Regions from separate parts of the Homo sapiens genome. Here regions 2 and 3 are each linked to region 1. The links come from fine-mapping of genetic effects on gene expression. A gene starts in region 1. Each other region holds a variant in brackets. All regions are shown on one strand. Distances are from middle to middle. Region 1 holds the start of DLG3 (discs large MAGUK scaffold protein 3). Region 2 overlaps DLG3 (discs large MAGUK scaffold protein 3). Region 3 overlaps DLG3 (discs large MAGUK scaffold protein 3).

Evidence for each region. PIP is the estimated chance that this variant, and not a neighbour inherited with it, causes the effect.
Region 2: its variant is fine-mapped to the expression of DLG3 in cerebellum (GTEx, PIP above 0.99). The same link has a PIP of 0.9 or more in cerebellar hemisphere.
Region 3: its variant is fine-mapped to the expression of DLG3 in whole blood (TOPMed, PIP above 0.99). The same link has a PIP of 0.9 or more in blood mononuclear cells.

Annotation. Positions count from the first base shown.
Region 1 is chrX:70,442,729-70,447,948 of GRCh38, reverse strand. It overlaps DLG3 (discs large MAGUK scaffold protein 3), which reads right to left and starts at 3,114. Exons shown (of 19, transcript NM_021120.4): 1 at 2,391-3,114. The coding sequence starts at 2,747. RefSeq lists an enhancer at 2,810-3,596.
Region 2 is chrX:70,475,869-70,481,088 of GRCh38, reverse strand. It overlaps DLG3 (discs large MAGUK scaffold protein 3), which reads right to left. Exons shown (of 19, transcript NM_021120.4): 10 at 1,825-1,939. Among named protein-coding and RNA genes, the nearest start is that of DLG3-AS1, 22 kb to the right of the region's middle. RefSeq lists enhancers at 536-1,037, 3,096-3,994. The variant T/A (reference allele first, on the strand shown) is at 2,285.
Region 3 is chrX:70,468,081-70,473,300 of GRCh38, reverse strand. The region is part of intron 9 of DLG3 (discs large MAGUK scaffold protein 3); the gene reads right to left. Among named protein-coding and RNA genes, the nearest start is that of DLG3-AS1, 15 kb to the right of the region's middle. The variant A/C (reference allele first, on the strand shown) is at 2,321.

The DNA of each region.
Region 1 (5,220 bases):
AGGCTGATTGGCAGCAGAGTCCATGGTTTTCAATATGTAGTAGCCATGCAAGAAGAGGCAAGGGAAGGGGTCAGAAACACAGGGGTGATTTGGCCAACCCACAGAGATGGCCTCCCAGACAGGACATGTGTGTATCTATTTGTCAAGTGAAAATGTGATTCTGGACATACAAGCAGCACCTGCCTGCTGGCTCCCACTTTCACCTCCAAGAATGGAGAAGCCCTCTTGCCTGTCTCCCCAGGTACCCTGGCACCCCTCCCCCACCTTTCTCTGGCTATGTTGTCCCTTCCCTGACCTCTAGCCTCCTCCTCAGAAGTGGGGAGCTGGAAACCAGGGTGGGGGCTCCTCCACATGTCCTGCTGTGCTTCCCCCGTCCCACCTCCACCCCACACAGCTTTGGCTTCAAGAAGCAGAGAGGAGGAGAGGGAGAGAGGACTAGCTCATCATGCCTCCACCATTTCTGGGCTGGCTCTGCAGCTGTGGGAGTTGGTGGGAGGACTCCAGCTACAGCCTTACCCTGGTCTGTGACCCCAGGAAGAAGAACTGAAGGCTCCTTAGAGACCCGAAACCAACACAGCTGCCTTAAGTACCATGCAACAGACACATAAGCAAAGGGACACCCATGTGGCTCTTGTGTGCATTTGGTGTACCATGTGTGCCCACATGTGACAAGCCATGCCTCAAGCCCAGCCCCAGTGGTACCCAGAGGCTTCCCGTTCCCAGTGGTCCACGCTCTAGCCCCCACCCCTACTCAAGGACCTTGTTCTCAGGGCCAGGAGCCATCCAGGGATCAGCCCTGGCAAAGAAACCTTGGCCAACTGGCCCAGCCTGGGATTGCCACCTGTCTCCCAGCCGGGCAGGACAAGCATAAGAGGGTGTTTGCGAGAGAAAGGCCTCCAGGACAGAGAGGGGGCAAAGGAGAGAGAGGGACTCGCTGGAAAGGGCAAGAGGCCAAGGCAAGGGATGTGGGAAAGCAGTAAGTGTGGACAGACAGAAGGCCAGAACTGAGGGCTCTTCTCCCCAGGAAGTCCCCACCTTTGCCTCTGAGTGAGAGCACATCCTATCCCCAGAGGACAGAGGCAGCCAGAACGGTCACCAGCTTGGGGAAGTCATCACCTGCCCTCGACAGCAAAGCCTCCTCTTCCTCTCTCCCCACCCTAGGAGCTGCAGAGCCGGATAACCAGACAGGCCCTCCGCCTTGCGTGCCAGGGACCTGGCTCTGCCAGCCCAGCCTCCATTTTGCTGCTTCTCCCACAGATGCTCCTTCCATTTTCTAAGCTGGCAGTTTAGGCTGGGAGTGGAAGCCGGAGTTGTGCCCAGCACCCAGGGGCTCCCAAGCTGTGCCAAGTCAGGGCTGGGGGGCTAAGCCCTCTCACATCTGGAGGTACCCAAGGGGGACATGCCCCACTGGGGCCAGTCTCTGCACCAGGGCAGCTGCCCCTTGCCGGCTCCAGGCACCATGCCTGCTCTAGAGCGAGGAGGCTTGCTTCAGTTCCTTCAAATCTCCCCCCGCCCCCCGCCACCCCACCCCGGCACACACACTACAGAGCTGCTTGGACAAAAGAGTCCGTCCTTCTCAGCAGCCTCTCAGCCTTGCTTGGGACATGTCTCTCGCCTCCTTCCTCTCCCCTCCCTTGCCTGTCAAGCGCCTCTCACCAGAGACAACACATACAAACACACACTCACACACACACACCAGGCACACGCGTGCACACTCTTGCAGCCACATGCTCACACACATATACATGTAGCCACACACACAAACACAGCCATCCCTGCAGCCTCCTCTACAGAGACCTCTCCACATTCAGAGTGACATCTCCACACATCCATGTGCACATTCACACACAAAGGGACTGGGACGGAGAGGGACTCATGGCATCAAGGGATGAAGCTCAGCGAGCCGGGCACATGGGCTCCTCCACACGGATTCACGGCAGCTCCATTGCCTTCCTCCACACACCCCAACATACATACACACACATATGTCCCCCCTACGCAGAGCACCATGCCCCCTCCCCTCCCCTCCGGTGGAGACACACACCACACACAGCCCCCGCAGAACCTCCCGCCCCCTGCCAGACACAGAGACATTGCCAAACCCCCACACTGAGACAAACCCAATTCCCCCACACAGGAAAATGTGCCCCTCCGCCATGCCCTTACCCCCTGACACACGGCTCCTCCCAGTCTTCTAATGGAGACCCCCAAACAGACACACACAGGGAACCACACATTTCCCACCGCCTCTCTTTGCCCAGCTGCAATGCTAGGGCTCGGGGTCCACAGGCTTGGAGCCCCAGCGACCCCTACTGCATCCCAGGCCTCTAGGCCCCCACTCTCCAGCCCTCCTGGGTTGCCCCACCGCTCCCCCCTCCGCTGGTCCATACCTGCTCATACCAGTCCCGGTTGGTACAGGTGCACTCTGGCCACCAGCTGGGGCCGCTGCCGTTGAGTTTGGGGGTGCTCTTGCCCGGGACTGGCTTAGGAGGCACCGGCCCCACATCCCGGCCGGTGGGGATGAGCTTGGCCTTGGTGCGAGGGGTGGGGGTGGCCCCCGCCTGCGAGGGCAAGGTCTGCGAGCTGTAGCCCCCATAACCCGCGCTGGCGCCGTTGCCCCCACCTGGCCCGTAAGGGTCGGGGACTTGCCAGTCGCCGTAGCCCGGAGGCTCGAGGCGCCGCAGGGCGGCCAGGCGGGTCACCTCATAGCACTCAGGGCACTTACAGCAGTGCTGGTGCTTGTGCATGGCACTGCCCCCCGCGGCTCGGACCCCCCAGCCCACGCCGGATTCCACGCCGCCGCCACCGCCGCCACCACCGCCGCCGCCGCCGCCGGGCTCCCTGGCACACTCACACTGCTCGGACCAAGAAGGGGGGGGCACCCGTGGGGGCGCCCGGGCTGAGCGGGGCCTGGGGCCGGGCGGGCGTCCCGGGGCCTCGGCCCCCACGCTGCCCCGCACCCACGGCTCCCCCTCCAGCACTGGCGGCTCCGTGTCGCCCGTCGTGGCTTCTGGGCCGAGGCCCAGCGGCAAAGAAGAAGCGGGAGCTCAAGCAGAGAATGGGTGCTGTGAGGACCGCTTCTGCTCTGGTCCCCAGGATGGATCTGAGTGGAGTCAAGAGCATCTCTCCCTGGCTCCCTTCTCAGTTGATTCCAGCCAATCAGCGCGCAGAGGCAGGCAGCGGCAGCGGCAGCGGCGGCGGCAGGAATGCTAAACAGCGGCTACTTAAAGGAACAGAGGCAGCGGCGCCCCCAGGCTCAGCCCCAGCTCCCCCAATCTCTAGGGAACTGTTGGCTCTAAGGGCGGGGGCAGAGGACGTGGGCCACCAGAAAGCTCAGGCACCCGATCTTGTGCCCTTATATCGCCAGTTTTAGCCTGTCCTCTGCCCACTCCACCCCACCCCACTTCCAAGAGGGAGTTGCAGGGAGATGTTCAATGGGTCCCCAGGCTTGCTCTGAGCTGGGGCCACCAGAAGTAAAGACGAGGTAGCAGGATGGACAGAAAGGACGTTGGAGCAGGGTGAGGGAGGTGCTTTCTCTTACAGGGGACCAAAGAAGAAGGCAGCATATGAGGCCCGCTGTCCTGTCAATGCCTCCTACACAAGACTATTGTTCTCTCAGTCTCTAGGCCCTGAAATTACTGTGACCTCACACTTGACCTTCTACCATCACCAGTAAAGAACTCAACCCTAGAACAGGGATTAACAGAAAGCTCTAAGTCCTTGTCCCTGGCCCACAAACCCCTATCTCCTCCACTCCACCCCTGCATGGTTATGATGGGGGAAGGAACTTCAGGATATCAAGATGAAAGTCCAGGACAGGTGAAAAGGTAAGAAGGGATTTGAAGAGAGAGAAACCCTTCTATGGGTCTGGAATAGAGCTTAGGAATACTTGTCCAAGGACATCTCCTTACCCTCTCCTGGCTCAGCTTGTCGGGGGAATGGAGGAAGGATGACATACAAGAAAGACTATCTTTTTTGCAGTTCTTGTTTTGTTTTTAGCTACCAATTATTGGGTCTTTACAAAGTCCTAAGTGCATAACACGCAAACCCAAATCCTACCAAGCTGATGCTATTATTATCTTCATTTTACCAATGAGAAATTGAGGCTCAAAGATGTTAACACAGCTAGGTAACACAGCTGGAAGTGACAGAATCAGGATGCAAATCCTGATTATTTGACTCCAGAGTCCACGCTGTGAACCACTCTAGTACGACAGGTCTATTCTAAGTTCTCCTGCAGAATTTACATCTCAGTTCAATTCAGCAAATATTCATTGAGCACCTGCTCTGTGCAAGACCTTGACCTAGGTATTAGGGATACAGAGGTTCTTTTTTTTTTTTTTTTTTTTTTTTGAGATGGATTCTCATTCTGTCACCCAGGCTGGAGTGCAGTGGCGTGATCTCAGCTCACTGCAACCTCAGCTTCCCAGGTTCAAACGATTCTCCTGCCTCTCAGTCTCCCTAGTAGCTAGGACTACAGGCTCCTGCCACCACGCCCGGCTAATTTTTGTATTTTCTTAGTAGAGATGGGGTTTCATCACGTTGGCCAGGCTGGTCTCGAACTCCCGACGTCAAGTGATCCACCCACCTTGGCCTCCCAAAGTGCTGGGATTGCAGGTGTGATCCACTGTGCCCGGCCCTCAGAGATTCATTCTTAATTCAACAAATATGCGTGGAACACTTGCTGTGTGCCAGACACTGTTGTAGGATTTGGGGATATAGCAGGAAACAAAATAAAACAGAACAAACAGAACAAATCCCTGCCCTTGGGGAGCTTACCTCCTAGTGAGAGGACACAGACAAAAATAAACACAATAAATAAGTGAATTATGTAGTACAGTAGGTCCTCATTTAACATCATTGGTAGGTCCTTGGCAACTGGGACTAAGTGAAACAACGTATAACAAAACCAATTTTACCACAGGCTAATTAATATAAACAAGAGCTAAGTTCCTACAGCATATTTCTGGTCACAAAACATCACCCAGCTTCCAAATAAAGACCCAAAACACTTCTGATATTGAACATTGAAATAAATATGAGCTATGCATACATATAGAAAGATTAATGAAAACAAGTAAATAATTACCTAACCTTTGGTGAACCAGTGAGTGACAGCAGTGGAAGTGGTGGTGGGTTGAATCAAGGAATAAATGTATGCAAAGCGAAAATTGTAAGGAGCACCTCCCTACCACCATGCAGTTCAAAAGCAAACAATCA
Region 2 (5,220 bases), 33 kb before region 1:
ATCTAGTGATCACAAATGGTTACTATTTTCCTAACCACATCTACTTTCCTCAGAGGATACAGATAATTTATCTAGAGAAGGTTACGGGCAGATTATATAAACTGATTCACTAGACACAGTCATGGTCTCCACCCTCGCCCCAGAGTTAAGCTAAGTGTATCCCTTTAATTCCCTTGCCTGAGCCAGGGAAGAGTGCTCCATATCGGGAGCCAATGTCCCACTCCCCCTGCCCAGGCAGAGAGAACTCTAACACAGGATAGGCGGAGAGGGGAAATCTAAAAATAAAGCTCTCCAAAGAAACTGTCTTGCCTAAAGAGCAGCTTCCCACGCACACTGGAGTGCCACATCTGCGGGGGCTGGAAGCACGGAACGGAACAATCCTGACCAAGTCATATAACCATTACCTATTTTGGGGGGTCGACAGTGCATTTCTGATTTCACCCATCAGCACCCCAGTATCCAGGCTGCAGACTGGGAGCAAGGGCTTTAGTGACAGAAAACAAAACTTTCCTTTCCGGGGAATTGGAAAAATGACCAGTGACTAGTCCCGCCTTCCTACCATTCTCCCTTCACAGCGGGAGGTAAGCATAGCACATGCTTTCAACACACAAGGGGTGGAGTTGAGGGTTCACATTAGGAAAGATTGTGAAGGGTTCTAGTGGGCTTCAGGCTCAGAGATGGGCTCCTTTAGCTCCACTCCCTGCGGTAGAGTCAGGGACCACCAACTGGGGAAAAAGAAAAGCAAGCACCATGAGAAAAACTGCAATTAGCGTTGACATCCCTTCACTATTGTCCTCTCACACCCCAAGGACAGAGCAGTTGTCACGTTGCCAAGCAACTAGCAAGTGCAACTTCCCAGCCAGGTATCAGAGGCCACTAGAAAAAGTTCAGCCCAAGAGTTTGATATGACCCCACACCTAAGCATTAAACACAATACTGTAGCAACTTCTGGCTCAGGAGAGTAATCCCCACCACCTTTCTCTAAGGGCTTTAACCTTGGAGGATACAATGTACTTGGCACCAGATTTTGGAGTTTTGCCAAGAAGCCAAAGCAGGAAGAAGGAAGCTATCCCTAATTCTATGAGGAGTCCACAGTATTCACTTGGCACTCCAACTCCCCAGGAGATTTGTACTTTGACCTGACAAAGTATTAAGCTATGCCTCAAGGGTCAGAGAAGCTCAACCTTGGAAATATCTTGGAATAGCTTTCAGCAGCAATATACTCCATGCTACCTATCTGTTCCCTCCACCCCCTCCCTCTTCCTAGGGCACATACACTATACATCCCATGATTCATAGATACAGCAGACCAGTGCAGCGGGTGGTGAGGGGGGAATGGAATCACAATAAAACATCCAGAATGCAGCAACCTGTCAGTTCTTTGGTCTCTTAAAAGAGATCCTGTACCAGAACACTGCGATAGTTGCTATGCTCAGATACAAATCCTGATGTCTATTATGCATACATGGAAGGGGATGGGGGGGTGGCAAGTTTCCCCTCAAAGCACAGATTGCAAGCAAAGTACTTTGAACATTTGACTGATATTTGAATGCTGACTAGCAACAATCACCCAACAGTCTTTTACAATTAGAGCAAACTGAAATTTTCCCATACTGAGTCATTCATGAGCTAAAAGGAAGAAGCCAGCTCACAAAAGGGAGGAGACACTGACCATAAAATACACAACCTAAGCATACAGTGAGAAGCGTTATTTTAGAACTGGGAGTACATACTCCCTAGCCCACTAGTTAAATAAGAAGGGCTGGGTTGGCATGGAGCTCTCCTCGTCCAGCACAAGGGCTAGTGCTCTGAAGGGCAACTTACCTGACATACAAGGACCTCTTTTCACTTGTTCGGAGGGACCCAGACCCAGAGCTCATGCTGCTGTTCATCATTTGTTCTCGTAAGTCATGTATCTTCGATTCAAAGCGACTGTATTCTGTCACGGAAACAAGGGAAAAGATGGGAAAAGAATGAACTCAAGGAGCGCCTCTGAGCTTGCATGCCAGCAGCCAAAAAGCCAGAAGGCCCCTTGGCTTAAAAGCAGCCAGAGCCAGCCCACTCAGTCTTTGCTTTGATAAGCAAAGTCCCTCCTCCTAAGCACAGAAAGACAGACTTCCCTTCAACCCCAGACTAACAGAAGGAAAGAATGCACCTGAAAAGGGAGTAGCATTTGGGCAGGTCAAATGCACAAAGCTCTTATCTGCCTCAAAATGTCACTGATCCTTTATAAAAATAACAACTGGAAAGAGGTTCCAGTGCAACCTTTATAAATCTTTAGAGC[T/A]GACACTAAGGCCCAAGGAGAGCAGATGGGAAAGGAGACTTTCCCAAAAAGCGGATTGCAGAGAACAGATGGCCCTGAGACGCAGAGCGGAGGGGCTGGAAAGGACCTGAGGTCAATTATATCATTGTTAGGCAAGAAGACAATTTTTTCAGGATGACTTTTTGGCTGGGGTGAAGGGGGGTGATATTGGAACCCAGTACAGAGGTAAAAACAAACAAACCTCACAACCGTAACAACCATATGAGGAGAATTAAAGCTCTCCTGAGTTATTTCCCTTTTAACCAATAGCCTCTTTGGCTTCAGTAGCATACATTAAAACATAAATTCTCCCAAACCGAGAAGTCGGCTGACACCTCTCACCTCCAAAATCATCCAGTCAGTGAGGTCATAAGTCCATCCCTAACCTTATAGCCCATTGAGACCATCACAACAGCTGGAAACAGCCTTATCACTCTGGAAATGTAATACAGGTTTATGCCGAATTTAAGAAAACCTGATACAAGAAAATTAACTCTAGCTGTACAATTATTATAAAAGGCTTTTTATAGGGCTGCTTTGCTGTGACATTCTCCTAGGACATTTAAAATACAATATTCACACTTACCAAACACACAATTACACATTTTCCAGGCCTATAATTGCCGCATAAAATGGGGTATATCTAAGGCCACAGGCCGTGGAAATGCTAGAAAACAGGCACACTTCACTATGACAAGCTGACTTTGAAGCGAGTCAAAATTTATACTAGGGGTTGAAGGTTGGGAAACTGCTTTAAAAAACAAACACACTTCCAGGGGAAAAAATTCCACAAAAGCAATTTCGTGCACCATAGAGGGCTGGCAAGAAGCATCCCCACCTAGTCCGTATGACTCTACAGGAGAAAACAAAACACCTGTTCCAGCACCTGACACTCCCCTTCCCTCTGCAAAGCAACCAGACTGACCTTCAACTGGGTGTAAGGGGAATTGCTAAAGCCTAAAGGGGAAGGAATGGAGTGAGGCAAATAACCTCCTCTCAACAAAGTTTCTTTTGTTCACTGTGATATCAGTTTAACCAACGGGTTAAATTCGTGTGCTCTTTCATTCATCACACGCCGGTGTTATGGTGATTTGTCCTCATTACCTACTCCTGTTCCTGAAATCCTGGAGGAAGCAGTTAAGTCACTGACTCACCCATTAAACGTTGCGGGGGGTGGGGTGGCGGAGGGTAGAGAGACAACAGCTGGACAATGTTCCTGTTCTGAGGGTTACACGGCAAGCCATCAATATCAATGAGGTGCCCCAACCTAAGCCCTGGACTGTCCTAGAGCATAACAGCAGGCCAGTCTACCTCTGGAGACCGCCTGGGTGCTGGCCCCACCCCAGGGCTTGGCCCTCTACACTGGGTGGGGATTGTTTCTCATTTGTTCCTTTCTGGCCCTCCTCTGAGCTCACCGGCTATGGGCAGAACCGTGTGAGACAAAGATTTCTGACCAGGCAGCCCTTTCTTAGGGGAAGATAAGTCAAAGAGAGAAAGAACTATGCATTGAACTGTGAACAAAAAAGTACACCCAATCTATCTTTAAGCCATGTTTTCCCCTTCTTGAAACTTGTTTATATATTCCCTTCTTTGGAATCGACTTGCCCGCTGAACTCCAACTTAGCAGCAGGTCATGGCAGTTGCTTAGTAACTACATTTCTTTAAAAATCCTTTAAAAAACAACCACGAAACCACCATTTCCTCAAAGCTCCTAATCCAAGGCTGATAATTCTGGGCCAGAGGGCCCACTTAAAATAGACTACAGAAAGAGAACAAAGCTATTGCTCTAAGGCATACGCTTTTTGTTTTTACATGTGCTGCTAAAATTTCAAGTTTATTAAATTGTGTTTTATTCACTTTTTTTTCCATTTGGATGATTCCCTTAGAGTTCCAGCTGCCCATCAGTCTCTGGCTTTTATTTGTAGATTTATCTAAAGTCTACTAGGCAGAGCAGCCTTTGAATAAATGATTGTTGGGTAAATGAGGAGCAAATTAGAAAACTGTGTCCAAGTTGACACTTCTATTCTTAAACTAATAAACTTAATGGTTTATTTAACTGATGGCTGCCAGCTTCACTGAGGGCTTAGAAAGGTGGTTAAGAAGCATTCACATTTACTTTTGTTCCCAAGGTTAATTGTTGGGAGCAATTGGGGTTTATTATTTTTAAACACCCTTTTGAGATGTTAACAACCCACAATAGGCGGCTGATTAACAACTTTTTACAACAAAGAAAAATCATTCTAACAAAAAACTGTTTAGAATAGACTTAGATACTACCTCATCTTAAATATTAGAGGTATCATTTTCCCAGGACAAAAGCTTCCCTTAAAAAGCATCTCAATTCTAAGACTTCAGGACTCGCCAAGCTCCCTCCTTCCCTCTGATTTGTCACTAACACAGCCATCGCAGCCAATGCTGGAGGACATCTCCTAGGCCAAAGTCACCGCCTAGGAAGCCCACCTGACCAGCCTCTAACCCAGAGGGCCCACTTCAAAGAAGCAACACTAAAATCTCAAGTCTACTAAACTGCTTTGTTTTTTCCCATTCAGATGAACCCAACTGTTTGTGACCCACAAAGATATCCAGTCATCGCCCTCTTTCCTTTTTCCCAGTTGCTAATCACAGAGAAACAAGTGGGAGGGGGCACAATCAGAAGTCAGTACCGAAGAAGGGTTTTGCCCCAGTCACTGACAAGTTGGGGTGCCTCTAAAAGATCAGGATTTGGCACCCCATCCCAGATACACAGAATCAGAATCTACTGAGCAGGGGCCCAGGAATCTGCATTTTAACAAGCATCAGTGTGATTCTGATAAAGTTTGGAGCTGCTGGTCTTAACTTACAGAATTGGATCCTGCAGTGTCTCTGAAAAGAAAGGTGGGGCCAGAGAGTGGATAAGCTCTCAAAAATAAAACTTGGTA
Region 3 (5,220 bases), 25 kb before region 1:
ATGTAAGGGTACAAAATGTATGGAACACAGGAAAGCAAGGGGATACTGGCAGGAGATCAGACTAAGAGGTAAGCAGGGGTCAGATCATACAAGGCCTTGTAAACTATGGTAAGGTTATTTGCTTTTTTTTTTTTTTTTTTTTTGAGACGGAGTTTCGCTCTTGTCACCCAGGCTGGAGTGCAATGGCATGATCTCAGCTCACTGCAACCTCCACCTCCTAGGTTCAAGCGATTCTCCTGCCTCAGCCTCCTGAGTAGCTGGGATTACAGGCGCCTGCCACCACTCCCAGCTAATATTTGTATTTTTAGTAGAGACAGGGTTTCACCATGTTGGCCAAGCTGGTCTTGAACTCTTGACCTCAGGTGATCTGCCCACCTCGGCCTCCCAAAGTGCTGGGATTGCAGGTGTGAGCCACTGCGCCCGGACAGGTTATTTGCTTTTATCCTAAGATAAATTCTTTCTCAATGGAAAGAAGCCATTGAATGATTTTAAGGAACGGAAGGACATGATCAGATATGTGTGTCACTTTGGCTACTGTGGAGAGAATAAGTGAAGTGTCTTATATCTACATTTAAGTTTCTTGACAGACGAAGCACATGCTTTCTATGTTTGTGTATTCTCCACAGCCCCTAGTATAAGAAGCCCCTGCTCTTACAGCATCCAAACCAGCTAGCCCTTCAGCCTCTGCTCAAACATGTCCAATACTGGGAAGCTCTCTAATTCTTTTTTTTTCTTTTTCTTTTCTGAGACAGGAGTCTCGTTCTGTCACCCAGGCTGGAGTGCAGTGGTGTGATCTCGGCTCACTGCAAGCTCCGCCTCCCAGGTTCAAGGAATTCTTGTGCCTCAGCATCCGGAGTAGCTGGGATTACAGGTGCCCGCCACCACATCCAACTAATTTTTTTGTATTTTTAGTAGAGACGGGGTTTCACCATGTTGGCCAGGCTAGTCTCAAACTCCTGGCCTCAAGTGATCCACCCACCTCGGCCTCCCAAAGTGTTGGGATTATAGGCGTGAGCCACTGCACCCAGCCGAGAAAATTTTTTGGTTTAGCGCCATCCCTTCTGCCAGCTGGTCCTAATTTTCATGTCTAAAACAGCATAAAACATGATGGGTTCTTTCCTTCAAAACAGTGTGAAGGAATAGTTTAAAGAAGGTCAAAGAGTTGGAAAAGACTGGAACAAGACTACTGAATAAAATGGGAGTAGATGGCAGAGTGCAAACAGGGGAAGGGGAAGTAATGGTAGGTTGCAGGCCAGATTATAAGTGCTTGAGATAGCACTTCTCTTACTAGGCAATGGGAACTGCGTTTAAGTGTTTAAACAGGAAAGTAACACAATTAGAACTAGGTTTGAGGGAAAATTATTCTGGGAGTGTAAGACAGAATTGGAGGACAGAGAGAGAGAGATAACAGAGACCGGGAAGCTGCTCTACTACTACAGACAATAATTATAAAGGCCTGACATAGTATAAGGGCAATGAAGACAGAAAGAAGAGACAGGAATCAAGAAATATGTTGGATCCTTCAAAAGTGGAGAAAGACAAAAAAGAAATATATTGGGGCTTGAAGGGAGAAAATTTGACATCTGATTGGATGTAGAGTGAGAAAGGATCAAAGGCAAAGAATCTGAGTTTTTTCCTTGGAGACATGGAAAAGGTGGGATAATATCAGCCATAATGAAGAATGATCTCAAGAATGTCCTCAAAAAGTTATGTCTTAGCCGAGATGGGCGGATCACGAGGTCAGGAGATTGAGATCATCCTGGCTAACACAGTGAAACCCCGTCTCTACTGAAAATACAAAAAATTAGCCGGGCGTGGTGGCGGGCGCCTGTAGTCCCAGCTTCTCAGGAGGCTGAGGCAGGAGAACGGTGTGAACCCAGGAGGCGGAGCTTGCAGTGAGCCGAGATCGCACCACTGCACTCCAGCCTGTGCAACAGAGGGAGACTCCGTCTCAAAAAAAAAAAAAAAAGTTATGTCTTCTCCAGGCTAAATGTTGTTATTTCCTTAACCATTCTTCATCCAACATAGTTTCCTAACCCTCCACTACCTCACCCTTTTAAAATCTAGTGCTCAGAATTAGTGGTGATGTCATTTACTAAAATATAAGCTCCTTGATGTGGTTTTTGCTTCCTTCTCAAGGTTTAGTGTGGCGATCTGCACCCCTGTTGAGTCAACATTTATTGAATGTGCCAACTGGATATAGAGGTCTGACAGGACAAACCTGGACTCTGTGATTCTCAAATTTTGGCTCCTCAGGAACAAATGTAAAAAAAAAAAGGAATACAAACTTTCTCCTTTCACCCACCCAAACATGCTAAAA[A/C]CTGACCAACAAAACCACGAACCACTTCTGCAAAACACTAACATGTCAGAGGTTTCAAGACATAGTTAACAGCCCAATAAGGCATCAAAGGGGACTGAAACTACAAGTTCCCTATTGCGAACTGGACACACACCCAGGCTTCCAAGTCCGTCTCTCCTCTAAGCCTCTGCTTCCAAATCCATCTACCTGCCTAATGACAGGAAAATTGTCAAAAATTAAAGATGACATTTTTTATTAATTTGGAAAGCTGAGAGGTGCTCAGTTTCTCAACCTGTATTGTTTATTTGGTTCTATTTGATTATAGGCAGGAAAATATTGTAGAGACAGGAAACAAGTGGTAGCAACAGACGATATTTATTCTGCATATAGTACAGACTACCAATGACTCGAATGAAGATATAAAAGGGAAAAGCTACAAAATAACATCCTGCCTATCAAATTTAGAAATGACGCTGGGTGCAGTGGCTCACTCCTATAATTCCAGCAATTTGGGAGGCCGAGGTGGGCGGACCACTGGAGATGAGGAGTTTGAGACCAGCCTGGCCAACATGGTGAAACCCTGTCTCTACTAAAAATACAAAAATTAGCCAGGCGTGGTGGTGCACACCTATAATCTCTGCTACTCAGGAGGCTGAGGCACGAGAATCGCTTGAACCCAGGAGGCAGAGAGGTTGCAGTGAGCTGAGATCACACCACTGCACTCCAGCCTGGGCAACAGAGCAAGACTCCATCTCAAAAAAAAAAAATTAGAAATGACGATGACACTGGGGAAGCAACTGGATGACAGACTTCAAACACACAGATTATGATAGGTAGAAAGAATCAGAAGATGCAAATAAAAATAAAGTGAAATAGAGAACTGTATCTTCTTGACCTTGAGTTCCCACACAAATATTGAGTAGGGAAGACATGGCTGAATAATGGCTCGTGTTTTAGTTGCCTATAACCTCAAAATAAATCAACTGCTGCCCAAAAAGTTCTTTCCATCTTATGGAAGTGCAGACATTCAAATCTCAAACTCATACAGCCCTCATTTGCCATTGCTGAGCTGCCCTGAGGCTCAAAGAAATAAGTCACCAATTGTGAAAAATAACAGAACTCTGGTGGAAGTGAAGTTACAGCCTCAGAGAGAGTCACAGAATTTGAGGAGTATGAATTGTGGTTTAGGTTCCTATATTTGCCTTTGGAGTATAAACCTTCACACTATGGTTCATATTTTAAAAAGAAATGGATGGGCTGGCGCGGTGGCTCACGCCTGTAATCCCAGCACTTTGGGAGGCTGAGCCAGGTGGATTGCTTGAGGTCAGGAGTTCGAGACCAGCCTGGCCAACATGGTGAAACCCCATCTCTACTAAAAAAAAATACAAAAAATTAGCCAGGCATAGTGGTGGGCTCCTGTAATGCCAGCTACTCAGGAGGCTGAGACATGAGAATCACTTGAACCTGGGAGGGGGAGGTTGCAGTGAGCCGAGACTACACCACTGCACTCCATCCTGGGTGACAGAGTGAGACACCATCTTAAAAAAAAAAAAAAGAAAGAAATGGATGGAGGTGAAAGTAAAATAAGCCCATTAAGAAGATACTTGTTAGTATGGAGTAAGTATATGAATTGCCAAATATCAGAACATTTCTAGGAATCACAAACTTGTCTTTATAAAATAGTTATGGGGCCAGATGCAGTGGCTCACACTTGTAATCATAACATTTTGGGAGGCCAAGGTGTGAGGATTGCTTGAGGCCAGGATTTTGAGGCCAACCTGCACAACATATTGAGACCCTGTCTTTGCAAAAAAAATAAGAGAATTAGTCAGGCGTGGTGGTGTACGCCTGTAGTCCCAACTACTCAGGAGGCTGAAGCAGGAGGATCGCTTGAGCCCAGGGGTTCAAGGCTACAGGGAGCTATGATCACACCACTGCACTCCAGCCTGGGTGTCAGAGTAACACCTTGTCTGAAAATAATAATAATGAAGCCTATTACTTGGGTTAGTTTCTAATGATGGGTCCATTGTTTAGAGGTGTTGTCTAACACCTCTAAAACTAGATAATTTCTAAGATCCCTTCTAATTATGACATCATTATGATTTTATGACCAAATCAATGAGGTCCATACGGAATCAAAGTTAGAACTAGTCTGATTTAATTTTTAAATATAATTTAGAGAGGGAAATCTTCAAATCTGCAAATAATTCTAAACTCTTTGGGTAAAAACAATACCAAATCAATAAACATAAATTACCAAAAATATTTCTCAAGGCTATGTGAGAGGGCAGAAATATGGCAAATAGGCTTCAATGGGCAAATATTGCTTGAGGAAAAATAATTTCAGTTCTACTTTTAGAATAATTTTGGAACTATGACTAACCCAGAAAGCTGGGTGTCCTTATTCTGGTCCCTGCACTGTCACTGTGTATGCTTCCTCGGCCATACACACACATAGCCAGGGTTCTGGATACCATCCTGAAGGATACTGAGAAGAAAACAGAAAACAAAACATGCCGGATCAGCATGCCATAAAAATTTCCAGTTTATCCCTATTGACTGGATGTTTTTGTCCCCCAAAGAGCTTAGTGAGGATGCAAGAAGAGCTACTGAGTGAAAATGCTATACTAGGCCAGGTGCCGCGTGGCTCACTCCTGTAATCCCAGCACTTTGGGAGGCCGAAGCGGGCGGATCACCGGAGGTCAGGAGTTTGAGACCAGTCTGGCCAACATGGTGAAAACCCATCTCTACTAGAAATACAAAAATTAGTTGGGCATGGTGGCGGGCACCTGTAATCCCAGCTACTCAGGAGGCTGAAGCACAAGAATCGCTTGAACTCAGGAGGCAGAGGTTGCAGTGAGCCGAGATCGCGCCGCTGCACTCCAGCCTGGGCGACAGAGTGAGACTCCATCTCATAAACA